3 linked regions of the Homo sapiens genome follow. The protein of the gene in region 2 purifies or fractionates together with the protein of the main gene of each other region. This does not show direct contact. Each region holds a gene or a part of one and is shown on either strand. Other genes may lie near its edges. The genes, in order: EXOSC7, EIF4G3 and PABPC4.

Region 1 (3,730 bases), on a different chromosome or scaffold from region 2:
TTATGAGAGTGAAAATTTAACTTCATGGAAATTTCACTTTGCTTTGCTCTTTATAGTTCTCTAATGGCATCAGTTTTTACTCCAAGAGGGAAACCTGTTAGAACTTTGCTGCACTAACAACACACAGCTGACCTTTGGTGGGGTGATTGGTCACAAGCCTGTCTTTTGATGGGTTCTTTCACAAATAATCACTAACCTTCTTCCTCATAGCACCCCTTCTGTTGGGCTCTGGGGATAAAAGGATGAACAAAACTACAGAGTCCCAGCCTTTAGGAGTTCACAGTTCAACTGCAGAGGAGATAGACTCTAAACAAAAACAGAACTACATGACTTTTCTTTCTATGTGTGACTTCTCACCTTTCTTATTTGGGGCAGCCCAGTCGGCTTTATTCCATAACCTCAGGCCAAGGCCTCTCTAAAATGAGGACAGAAGGATATGCCACCTTCCAGTTAAATGTGCTCTAATTTTCCCTGCTAGATGAGCATACGTAAGTGCACTCAACACTTTCGCTCATGGGCAGAAGCTTGTCTGAGAGACTTTAGTCTTCATTATAAGTAATGTAAAACATGTAGTATTTCATGTCTGAGCATCAGATATACATTGATCATTACATACGAGAAGTAATTACACTAGTAAATGTGAACCTAGTAGCAGCCGCAACATCAGTAGCCACCGTTTTCTCCTTGTTTGGAGGCCAGGCATATGTTAGCAAAGATTAGAGTAACACTTGGAGTACAATTGGGAGCTATCTGGGGCAAAATAAAGGTGATCAGTCCCACCTTCAGGGCAGCCCCAACTGCCTGAAGTGCCTGTGAGAGGAGCCCACCCACAAGCCATGGCCTCTGAGTGTTGGTACCACAGCCCTGCCAACTGTGACCTTGTGTGCATGGGCCACGTAAGCACAGCTATGACAAGGCAGTGCCTGTAATTAGGGTGAAGGACTGTGTCAGTGAGTTGCAGTCACTGCATGGCTAGCCAGGAGAGAAGCCACATGTTATCTTTATTTTATAAACACACAGTCAGCATTTCTTAGAAATCAGTGTCCTTGACCACAGAATAGATTTAGGGAAAGAAAAAAAAAAATCGGTGTCCTGGCCGGGCGTGGTGGCTCATGCCTATACCCCAGCACTTTGGGAGGCTGAGGTAGGCGGATCACTTTTGGTCAGGAGTTCAAGACCAGCCTGGCCAACATGGTGAAACCCTAAAATACAAAAATTAGCTGGGGGTGGTGGCGCACACGTGTAATCCCAGCTATTCGGGAGGCTGAGGTGGGAGAATTACTTGAACCTGGGAGGCAGAGGTTGCAGTTAGCCAAGATTGCACCACTGCACTCCAGCCTGAGTGACAGAGCGAGACTCTGTCTCAAAAAAAAAAAAGCAGTGTCCTTTAACTGGGGTAATACCTAAAGTAATAAGTGATGCTTGGTTTTTTTTCCTTTTTCAATTCCTGTCTCCCTTAGCTTCTGGAATGTGGTGGAAATTTGTTTGATGCCATTTCCATTGCTGTAAAGGCTGCTCTCTTCAATACAAGGTAAGTCTTCCTAGAAACAGCTCTGCGAACCTGTGGAGAACCAGAGCAGACACTTGTAATGGAACACTGAGGAAATTTCTATTGTAGCTCATATGTGAAGATAACAGGGGGTTTTAACATTGAAAATGGTGACATCTAACGTTAAACTCCAGAAAAGATAGATTTCGTGAATTAAAACTACATATATACGTATATTCTGTATTTATTTTTTGTATTGTTATTTTTATAAATAGACACCTACCATTTAGAAAAATATTAGAAAACTACAGAGAAGCCAAGAAGAGTAGACACCACCTACAGGCCAACTATCCAAATACTATTACTGGGTGAACTCTATGGGGGCAAGGATTTTGCCTGTTTTGTACTTGCCTATATTCCTAGCACCATGAACAGTACCTGACACATAGTAAGTGCTTGCATATTGCTTGATTGTACACATGTGTGTTCTAAAAGCAGGGTAACAGGCTTCCCTTTGGTTTAAGAAGAGGAAATGGCTATTCCACATGGTTCAGCTTTCCAAACAGGTTGTGTAGAAGGGACAAGTTGCTATGCTTTTTTGGAGTTGACATTTATTCTGACTGATTGACCTTTCCCCCTTTTATGCTCCAAGTACTTTGAGGAAAATTTGCAGCATTTATGAGTAAATACGTGGGATAGGGTGTTCATCCTATGAGAGAGCCTACATTAAGGTAACAGAGGATCCTATTAAAAAACGAGGATTAGAAACTTCTAGGGATATAACCTAAGGACATAATTGAATAAATGAGCAAAGATGTTTATTCTAGGATGTTCATCACATCCTAGAATAAACATTACACTGCTTTGTAATGGTAAGAAACTGGAAACAACCTGAGTTTCACAATGGAGGGGATTGAAGTCCACACAGCAGCCTATTTAAAGGCATGTTAATATGGAAAATAGTTCACTAAATGCAGTCCCCTCATCCTGGTTTTTGTTTGTTGGTTTGTTGTATTTTACTTTGGTAGTTCTTATATGTAATGTGTCTGGAAATATGTACCCCCAAGTAATCACTGTAATTATTTTTCAGTGCTCATATTTTGGCCAACATAACATTTACCTGTTTTTTAGAGCTTTTCTATGATGAGTTTAGACTCCCTGTGTAATTTAGAGCAGACAAAAATTGCAGGCTGGAATATTTGCTGAGAATGAAAGCTGTAGAGTCCCCCACCCCTAGCTGTGCCACTAGGCTCCTTGTTGAGACTATTTGAAATGTGAGCCTGGCACTCTTGGCCACCGTGGGAGCTTGCGTGCCAGATCCCACAGCAGTAGCTGGTGCTCGGGCCCTGTTGGGGAAGGAAAGGAAGCTGTCATCTGATTTATCTTGAGCCTCAGAAATGACTCCCCATCTGCCAGCTGGTTCCTATAGGCACCCAGGCAAAAAGAGAGATTGGGAACCAGACAAGGCTGTTTAGCTGTGGGGGAGTTGCTGGCCAAACTGTATACCAGAAAGGTTAACCCAGCTGCTCAGGTAGGGGAGGACACCTGTCATGGGCACAGCCATAGTCTCATCCTCAGACCAAGAACAGCCCTGCAGGCAGCAAGGAATGGGGACTCTAAGGCATCAAGTCCCCCTGGTATGTGGAGAGACTATTGGCATATTCAGGGTCCTTTAGAAGGGTAAAGGCCACCTGAGGGTATTCTTTAGCCCTTCTGCCCAGGCTTGTTGTAGCCAAAGGGTTGGGAAATTGGGAGATACTGTGCGTGCGTGCGTGCGTGCGTGCGTGTGTGTGTGTATGTGTGTGTGTAAATGGTTGACAACTTGTTCAAATAGGATATTACTTAGTAGAACTTCCTCTGATGGGAAGGCTCCAAATGGGGAAGACCCTTACAGAACTCCTTGGCCCTTGTCAACATTCTCTGGCTGAAGCTCCCCTGATCTGATCTAGATGTTGCCTTGTGTATGGATGGCCAGCAGGGCTCAATCATGGGGGGTTTTGTTAGAGGAACTGGGAAAAGTACTAATGCTGTTTCCATTACAGTAGCTGGATGGACCACCTCTTCCTTCCTGGCTCCTCCAACCCAGCCTGGAGTGAATTGACTTTATAGGTTAAATGTGTTTTTCAGTACCCAGCTGAAGAAACAGAATGTTGCCAGCACCCCAGAAGCATCCCACACCTTCTGTACCCCCATGCAATTACACTCACTGATGATAACCAGCATCTTAAAAGAATAGATTAC
Region 2 (3,500 bases):
ACACCAGCACCTTAATCAAAGAGTATAGACTCTTCAGTGGTAATCCAGAGAGCACTTAGAAAAGAAAGAACTGTTTTTTTAATGACTTGGAATAACAGAGGTTTGTGATGTTGGGAGGTAAAGTTTCTTGGCATTTTTCTAGTCTCCTGATTTTTTAACCTATGTGTTTAAGGGAATTACAAGTTTTATAATTTCCTTGTACATCTTAATAGTCTTCAAAATCCAACAGTAAATGAACTTCAAGAACCCCTGCAACTCTAGCTTTTTTTTTTTTTTTTTTTAATTTTTTTTAAGATGGAGTCTCGCTCCATCGCCCGGGCTGGAGTGCAGTGGTGCAATCTCGGCTCACTGCAACCTCTGGCTCCCAGGTTCAAGCAATTCTCCTGCCTCAGCCTCCTGAGTAGCTGGGATTATAGGCGTGTGCCACCACGCCTGGCTTATTTTTGTATTTTTAGTAGAGACGGGGTTTCACCTTGTTGGTCAGGCTGGTCTCGAACTACTGACCTTGTGATCCGCCCGCCTCAGCCTCCCAAAGTGCTGGGATTACAGGCATGAGCCACCACACCTGGCCAGCAGTTTGTAAATTATAAAGCCTCAGAAGCATTTCTGACCCATTCATTTCTGTCCGAATATTTTTTAATGGTTTTGTCACAAAAGTTAACAATGAAAATTAAAATTACCTCCAGTCTTTAAGTATATCCACCTGACGTGGTCATATGCTTAATGACTATAATTTATTTGCACTTATTCACATAATATTCACTTATTATACCTTGTTTACTTTGAGAAGTTAGTAAATCATAACAGCCGTTTACTTTGAGAAGTTAATAAATTGTAACACCAAAACAGTCTGGTTTGCCTATGAGTCTTTTGGTGGTGACTTTTGAGAATAGTTTTTACTTGTCTCTGCCTGAGGATGAAACACCTCAAAGCTGGCTTCAGAAACCTGATACATAAATAACATATCAGTTGGTATAGAGATAGTTGGTTAAAGCAGTAAAGTTATAACATAAGGGATATGGTATCTTTTAGTTCTGCTGCAAAACATTTTCTTGTAACTATTCTAGATCATATTTCTGAGTGAATAAAAATGCATCAGTTGAGGCCGGGCGCGGTGGCTCATGCCTGTAATCCCAGCACTTTGGGAGGCTGAGGAGGGTGGATCACCTGAGGTCACGAGTTTGGGACCAGCCTGGCCAACATGGTGAAACCCCGTATCTACTAAAAATACAAAAATTACCCAGGAGTGGTGATGCGCCTGTAATCCCAGCTATTCTGGAGGCTGAGGTGGGAGAATTGCTTGAACTTGGGAGATGGAGGCTGCAGTGATCCAACATCGCGCCACTTCACTCCAGCCTAGGCAACTGAGCAAGACCCCATCTTAAAAAAAAAAAGAAAGCATCAGTTGTTTTCGGATTGAAGAACAAGCTCTGTAAAATTAGAATTTGGTGTGTATATATCTTCAGTGTACTCTGAAAAGCCTCAGTTATTGGCCACACTTTTAATATCACCGTCACTTTAGTAATTAAATGCATAAAACTAGATATTAATTGGATGATATATTAAAGTCTTGGGAATTTTTATTGTTTATTCTCTGTATCTGGTGGGAGGAAAAAGGAGTGTTTTGAACTTGTGGGAAAGCATTCCCCATTAATCATCCAGGAGTTTGTTTTCTACAATTTTAGGAATGTATATGATGTATAGTATGTAACATTAACTTTCCCACTTTTTAAAAGAATTGTGACTTTTTTATTTTATTATTTTTACCTGTATCAGATATAAAACCATTATTTAAATTTTCTTAGGCAGAGGGAGATTTCTAATTTTTCTATTTATTTTGTTTTTTTGGCTCTTGCTTATAGTACATTTTTAATGTATATTTTGTAAGTTTGTTTTATGAACTTATCCAGATAAATTTTCCTGGATGTAGATTGATGGCAAGTTATTCTAAAGCAGATTTGTGTTTACTTTATCTGCTGCATGTCTTGGGGAAAGCATTTGCTGGAACTAAATCTGGGTTTAATGTTTGTTAGAACTAAATCTGGGTTTAATGTCCTAAAGCTACAGTTCTATCCCAAAGCCTAAGGACAGCCATACCGTATGGCTTGGATACTAATTTTCAGGGTAACAGCAATCTTCTCTCCATCCAGTTGAAACAACGTCCTTTCTCATCATCACTGTGTTGGTTCAGTGGTTTATTCCCTCTCTCTCTTTTTTAAGCTATCTTTTCACTGAGCATGTCACCCATTTGGGAGTCTCAGAGCTTTATGTGAGCATCTCAGTTCCAGGTTCCCACTTTGCAGGGATCCAAGATCTCTCTTTTCTTATGGGTGTTAAAAATACAAATTCATTGGTTATAGAGACTGGCACACCCTTCTACACCCCCAGGAATGTAAGGATGGCATCAGCCACTGACCTGTAGTTTACCTTATATTCTCGTAAGCTCAGCTAAGGATGTAGAAGGGTTTCCAGATTCTGTAGAATATAACATAGGAAGTTTATTTCTCAAATGGAGATACGATTATATGTTTTGGTAATGTTAACAAAATACTGATCCATGTAGCCAATCAAGTTGCTGCTTTCTCTTTTAGTTTAGACTTACTGAAGTGTAAAGGGAGCATACTTCAGTGCAAGAAAAATATTTTAATAACAACCCTTGCTTTATTCTCAACTGTGAGAGTATTCAGAGTACTTTCAAAGAAATAAACATAGCAAACATAAAACCAGAGATATAAAAGTCTATCAGTTTTCCTAGATTAAACTAAAAATGACTAATCTTTTAAATAATAAAATTTATTCTAACCTTTGCTCAACTTACATATTCTAAAATATATTTGAAATATCTCTGGAAGATTTAGTCGCTGGGGCCAAAAGTAGATTGCCAATGGTTTGAGTATCCTGTTGGCCTAATCACTATACTACTATGCATCCTTATAATTTAGCTTCTACAGAAACGTGTTCTGGAAACATGGAAACAGGACTCCTTACACATTCCTGGTTCTTTGTCATCTACCAAAACAAGCAGAGTGATCCTTAAAGCAAGGACCATTGGCTTCAGTTTTCAGAGGCTTGAGTCTGAGTGATCCTTAGGGATAAATAAAGGTTTTCTCCACCTTGTTTGTAAACTGTTTCCAACAAAGCTGCCTAAAAGGTATGTTTCTGCCATCCCATTCCTATTTTCTTGTTTCCCTCCCCAGTAAACTCTTAGGCATTCCTTGGAAAATACTGATGCTGGTCAAATTCTTTTATATACTGCAGAATGAGCCCAGACACCTGTTAGTTGAGCCTGTTGGCAAGTCCCTTACGTAGTTCTTCCTTGCCTCTTTATGTGGGATAGATTTCCCCATTTTTTACAGTAGTTCATGTCTTTCATCATGAGCCCTAAAGTCTCAGTCATTGGGTATTAACTTAGTTCTACATCTTTCTGAGTAGTTATACTTTGTTCAAAATGTAGCTCCCTTTTCCCCACATTTAGTAACTAATCCTCCTCCATGACAAAG
Region 3 (3,467 bases), about 19 Mb from region 2:
TGTTATCAGTTGTAGTAGGGAGTTGGCCAGAGGCCAACTGTGGGTTTGCCCAGTTCTTACCCTTTCGTTTTTGCTATGACCCCCCCCTTGACTGGCCCTCATCAGTGTAAGGAGTGATCTTCTATCCTTGCTTATCTGCCTAGTAGTCAAGTTGGCATTTGTTAAGAGAGCAGAAGAGCCATACCTTGAATTGTCCCCATTTTCATTATGATGGTGTGGCATTTTTATTCACATACCTTACTGGCCCATCTCATTGGTAGAGAGTTATGGAGTGATGCACTTCTTTACTTCCCTATCCTCCACTTCAGGAGGCTCTCTGGGCCATTAACTAAGACATAAAACAATGACAGTCACACCAGAGAAGACAGTGAATAACCTTGTCTATTAGGAAGAATGCCATTTGTGAATGATGAACTTAATGTGGGAAAAGACTGCCTGAACCAGTAGACCTGTGGTTTTGTAGCTGTTTGGAGTATTTCTTGGAAATTGAGCCTCAGGAAGGCAAGTGAGACTAGAATCTAGGCTGCCTATCTCTGAGCTGGTCATCTCATTGAATTAATGGTGGCAGTCATTGGTTACCTGAACATTTTAGGACTCCTGTCCACACGTGGTATTCCAAAAGTGTTATCCTGACGTTGGTAAGAGCTTGTTAGAGTTTGTCCACCGAGGTCTTGAAGCATATGAGATATGAAAATAAATTGCTCAGTACTACTCTCAAGATGTTTTGTGGTTACCCGGAGTAGCTATCCACCAGGTATCAGGAAACATCTTTGAGTTCCTGGTTTTATTATTAGCCATATCATAGTGTTTCAGAACTTTAGCATCACCTGGGGACTCAAAGAAAACACCTAGATACCTTAGAGGTTGTGACTTAGTTGGTCTGGGGTAAATCCTGTGCCAGAACCCTGACCTAGACTCAGTGACTGCAGCAGAACCCAGGCTTTCTGGTTCTTCTGAATAGTTCCCTCCCCACCCAGGGACATCCTTTTTTTTCCTATTTGTAGGTTTGTTTTGTTTTTTTTGTTGGTTTGGTTGGTTGGTGTTTTTGTTTTGTTTTGTTTTGTTTTGTTTTGTTTTGTTTTGGAGATGGAGTCTCGCTCTGTCGCCCAGGCTGGAGTGCAGTGGCGCGATCTCGGCTCACTGCAATCTCTGTCTCCCGGGTTGAAGCGGTTCTCCTGCCTCAGCCTCCTGAGTAGCTAGGATTACAGGTGTGTGCCACCACGCCCAGCTGATTTTTGTATTTTTAGTAGAGACGGGGTTGCACCATGTTGGTCAGGATGGTCTTGAATTCCTGACCTCGTGATCCACCCACCTCGGCCTCCCAAAGTGCTGGGATTACAGGCATGAGCCACTGCGCCTGGCCCTTTGTTTTTTTGAGATGAGGTCTCACTACATTGCTCAAGCTGGTCTCAACCTCCTGAGCTCAAGCAGCCCTCCCACCTCAGCCTTCCAAAGTGCTGGGATTACAGGCACAAGCCATCACACCCAGCCAGGGACACCTTATTTCTTAAGTAGCTGGTCTCATTTTGTAGGTAATGCTGGAGGATGGAAGAAGCAAAGGGTTTGGCTTCGTCTGCTTCTCATCTCCTGAAGAAGCAACCAAAGCAGTCACTGAGATGAATGGACGCATTGTGGGCTCCAAGCCACTATATGTTGCCCTGGCCCAGAGGAAGGAAGAGAGAAAGGCTCACCTGACCAACCAGTATATGCAACGAGTGGCTGGAATGAGAGCACTTCCTGCCAATGCCATCTTAAATCAGTTCCAGCCTGCAGCGGGTGGCTACTTTGTGCCAGCAGTCCCACAGGTGGGTGTGCTGTTTGGTCACAGCTCTTGGGAACCTGCCGGCTGGCAGTATTCTGCAGTGGTTGGGGAGAGGGATTTTTCGTTATTAGAGTTCTAGAATGTCACAATAAGGACCCTTCAAGTAAAAATGAAGGACTTACCCATGGTCACAAACACACACCCACAGTGGCAGTGGTAGCATAAAACAGTCCCCATTAGCTGACCCCTCAGCTCTTGAATAGAAAGAACATTTAAATAATTAGCTTAGGTCCTGGTTAGTGAGATGAGATGAGATACTTCTCTAGGATGGGTTCAGTCCTTAAGGGGGTGTTTGGGTATTCTTCTGTCTTACAGGCTCAGGGAAGGCCTCCATATTATACACCTAACCAGTTAGCACAGATGAGGCCTAATCCACGCTGGCAGCAAGGTGGGAGACCTCAAGGTAGGTGGTGGGGAACAGTAATTGACAGCCCAGGATATACCTGTCCTGGTCTCCCCTGCCTTTCCTTCTTCCCCACTCTGAGGCACAGCCTAGGTTCTGGTCCACATCACTTCTCAATGATGTGCAATTTTTCTCTTCACCAGGCTTCCAAGGAATGCCAAGTGCTATACGCCAGTCTGGGCCTCGTCCAACTCTTCGCCATCTGGCTCCAACTGGTAATGCTCCGGCCTCTCGTGGCCTCCCTACTACCACTCAGAGAGTCGGTGAGCAAACTGGCCTTTAGAAGTGTGGCCTGGGGAGGAGGGAGTCAGGATGACTAGGCTCTGTCCTGGGTTGGTCAGTTTGTTGGGCTCGAATTTATCGAGTCCTGGTTCTGTAATCTTAGCTGTGTGCTTAGGTGGCCACTTCAGGAGCAGAGAAACAGTATGAGTTCTAGGTGTGTCAGTTGCTTTTAACATTCTTTGCTCATCGGTGACCTATGTGAAAAAGGTTAGTTGTAGAAGTTTGCTAGCTGGATGACCACAGAGGCAGCTTGTTCTTTTGGGTGGGGTGAGGAATACAAGGAAACAGTGTATACAGAATATGTCTTGTATTCCAAGATGTGGAAAGAGTTGTATGTTATCCTTTGGCTCATCCTCGAAAGTAGTAGTGGCCCCCTGTGCAATGTGTTGCGTAAACGTGCTTTGAAATTTCTCCTTCCGTGGGACGTGGCCAGTTGGACATCTGCCGCCAACACTGATGTGCATTTGCTGGTCTGTTGTAGGGTCTGAGTGCCCGGACCGCTTGGCTATGGACTTTGGTGGGGCTGGTGCCGCCCAGCAAGGGCTGACTGACAGCTGCCAGTCTGGAGGTGGTATTGGATGCACACAGAAGGGGGAAAGATGGGATTTGACGGGTCTTTGCCCAGACTGATGGGCTTTAATTGTATTTGTTCTTTCCCTAAGGCGTTCCCACAGCTGTGCAGAACTTAGCGCCACGCGCTGCTGTTGCTGCTGCTGCTCCCCGGGCTGTTGCCCCCTACAAATACGCCTCCAGTGTCCGCAGCCCTCATCCTGCCATACAGCCTCTGCAGGTGAGGTTCACCAGACAGAATGCTTAAAAGGATTTCCCCCATTTCCACTTGATGTAAAAGAAGCTGTGCTTTTGATTCCTTCAACAGGTATTAAATGCCTGCTCTGTGTTATGACGCTATGTTCTGATTCACTGTCCCTGCCCTTCAGGGGCTCACTAGTGGGAAAGAAG

The links.
Region 1: the proteins of EIF4G3 (region 2) and EXOSC7 fractionate together in Homo sapiens (co-fractionation; one large-scale study listed by BioGRID). This does not show direct contact.
Region 3: the proteins of EIF4G3 (region 2) and PABPC4 fractionate together in Homo sapiens (co-fractionation; one large-scale study listed by BioGRID). This does not show direct contact.

Annotation. Positions count from the first base shown.
Region 1 is NC_000003.12:45,000,078-45,003,807, forward strand, and holds part of EXOSC7 (exosome complex component RRP42), read left to right. Parts: intron 1-1,460; coding exon 1,461-1,531; intron 1,532-3,730. UniProt on the Homo sapiens protein: Non-catalytic component of the RNA exosome complex which has 3'->5' exoribonuclease activity and participates in a multitude of cellular RNA processing and degradation events.
Region 2 is NC_000001.11:20,935,898-20,939,397, reverse strand, and holds part of EIF4G3 (eukaryotic translation initiation factor 4 gamma 3), read left to right. Parts: intron 1-3,500. UniProt on the Homo sapiens protein: Component of the protein complex eIF4F, which is involved in the recognition of the mRNA cap, ATP-dependent unwinding of 5'-terminal secondary structure and recruitment of mRNA to the ribosome. Functional homolog of EIF4G1.
Region 3 is NC_000001.11:39,563,444-39,566,910, reverse strand, and holds part of PABPC4 (polyadenylate-binding protein 4), read left to right. Parts: intron 1-1,532; coding exon 1,533-1,805; exon of another isoform or gene 1,806-1,841; intron 1,842-2,137; coding exon 2,138-2,225; intron 2,226-2,368; coding exon 2,369-2,488; intron 2,489-2,988; coding exon 2,989-3,075; intron 3,076-3,169; coding exon 3,170-3,297; intron 3,298-3,467.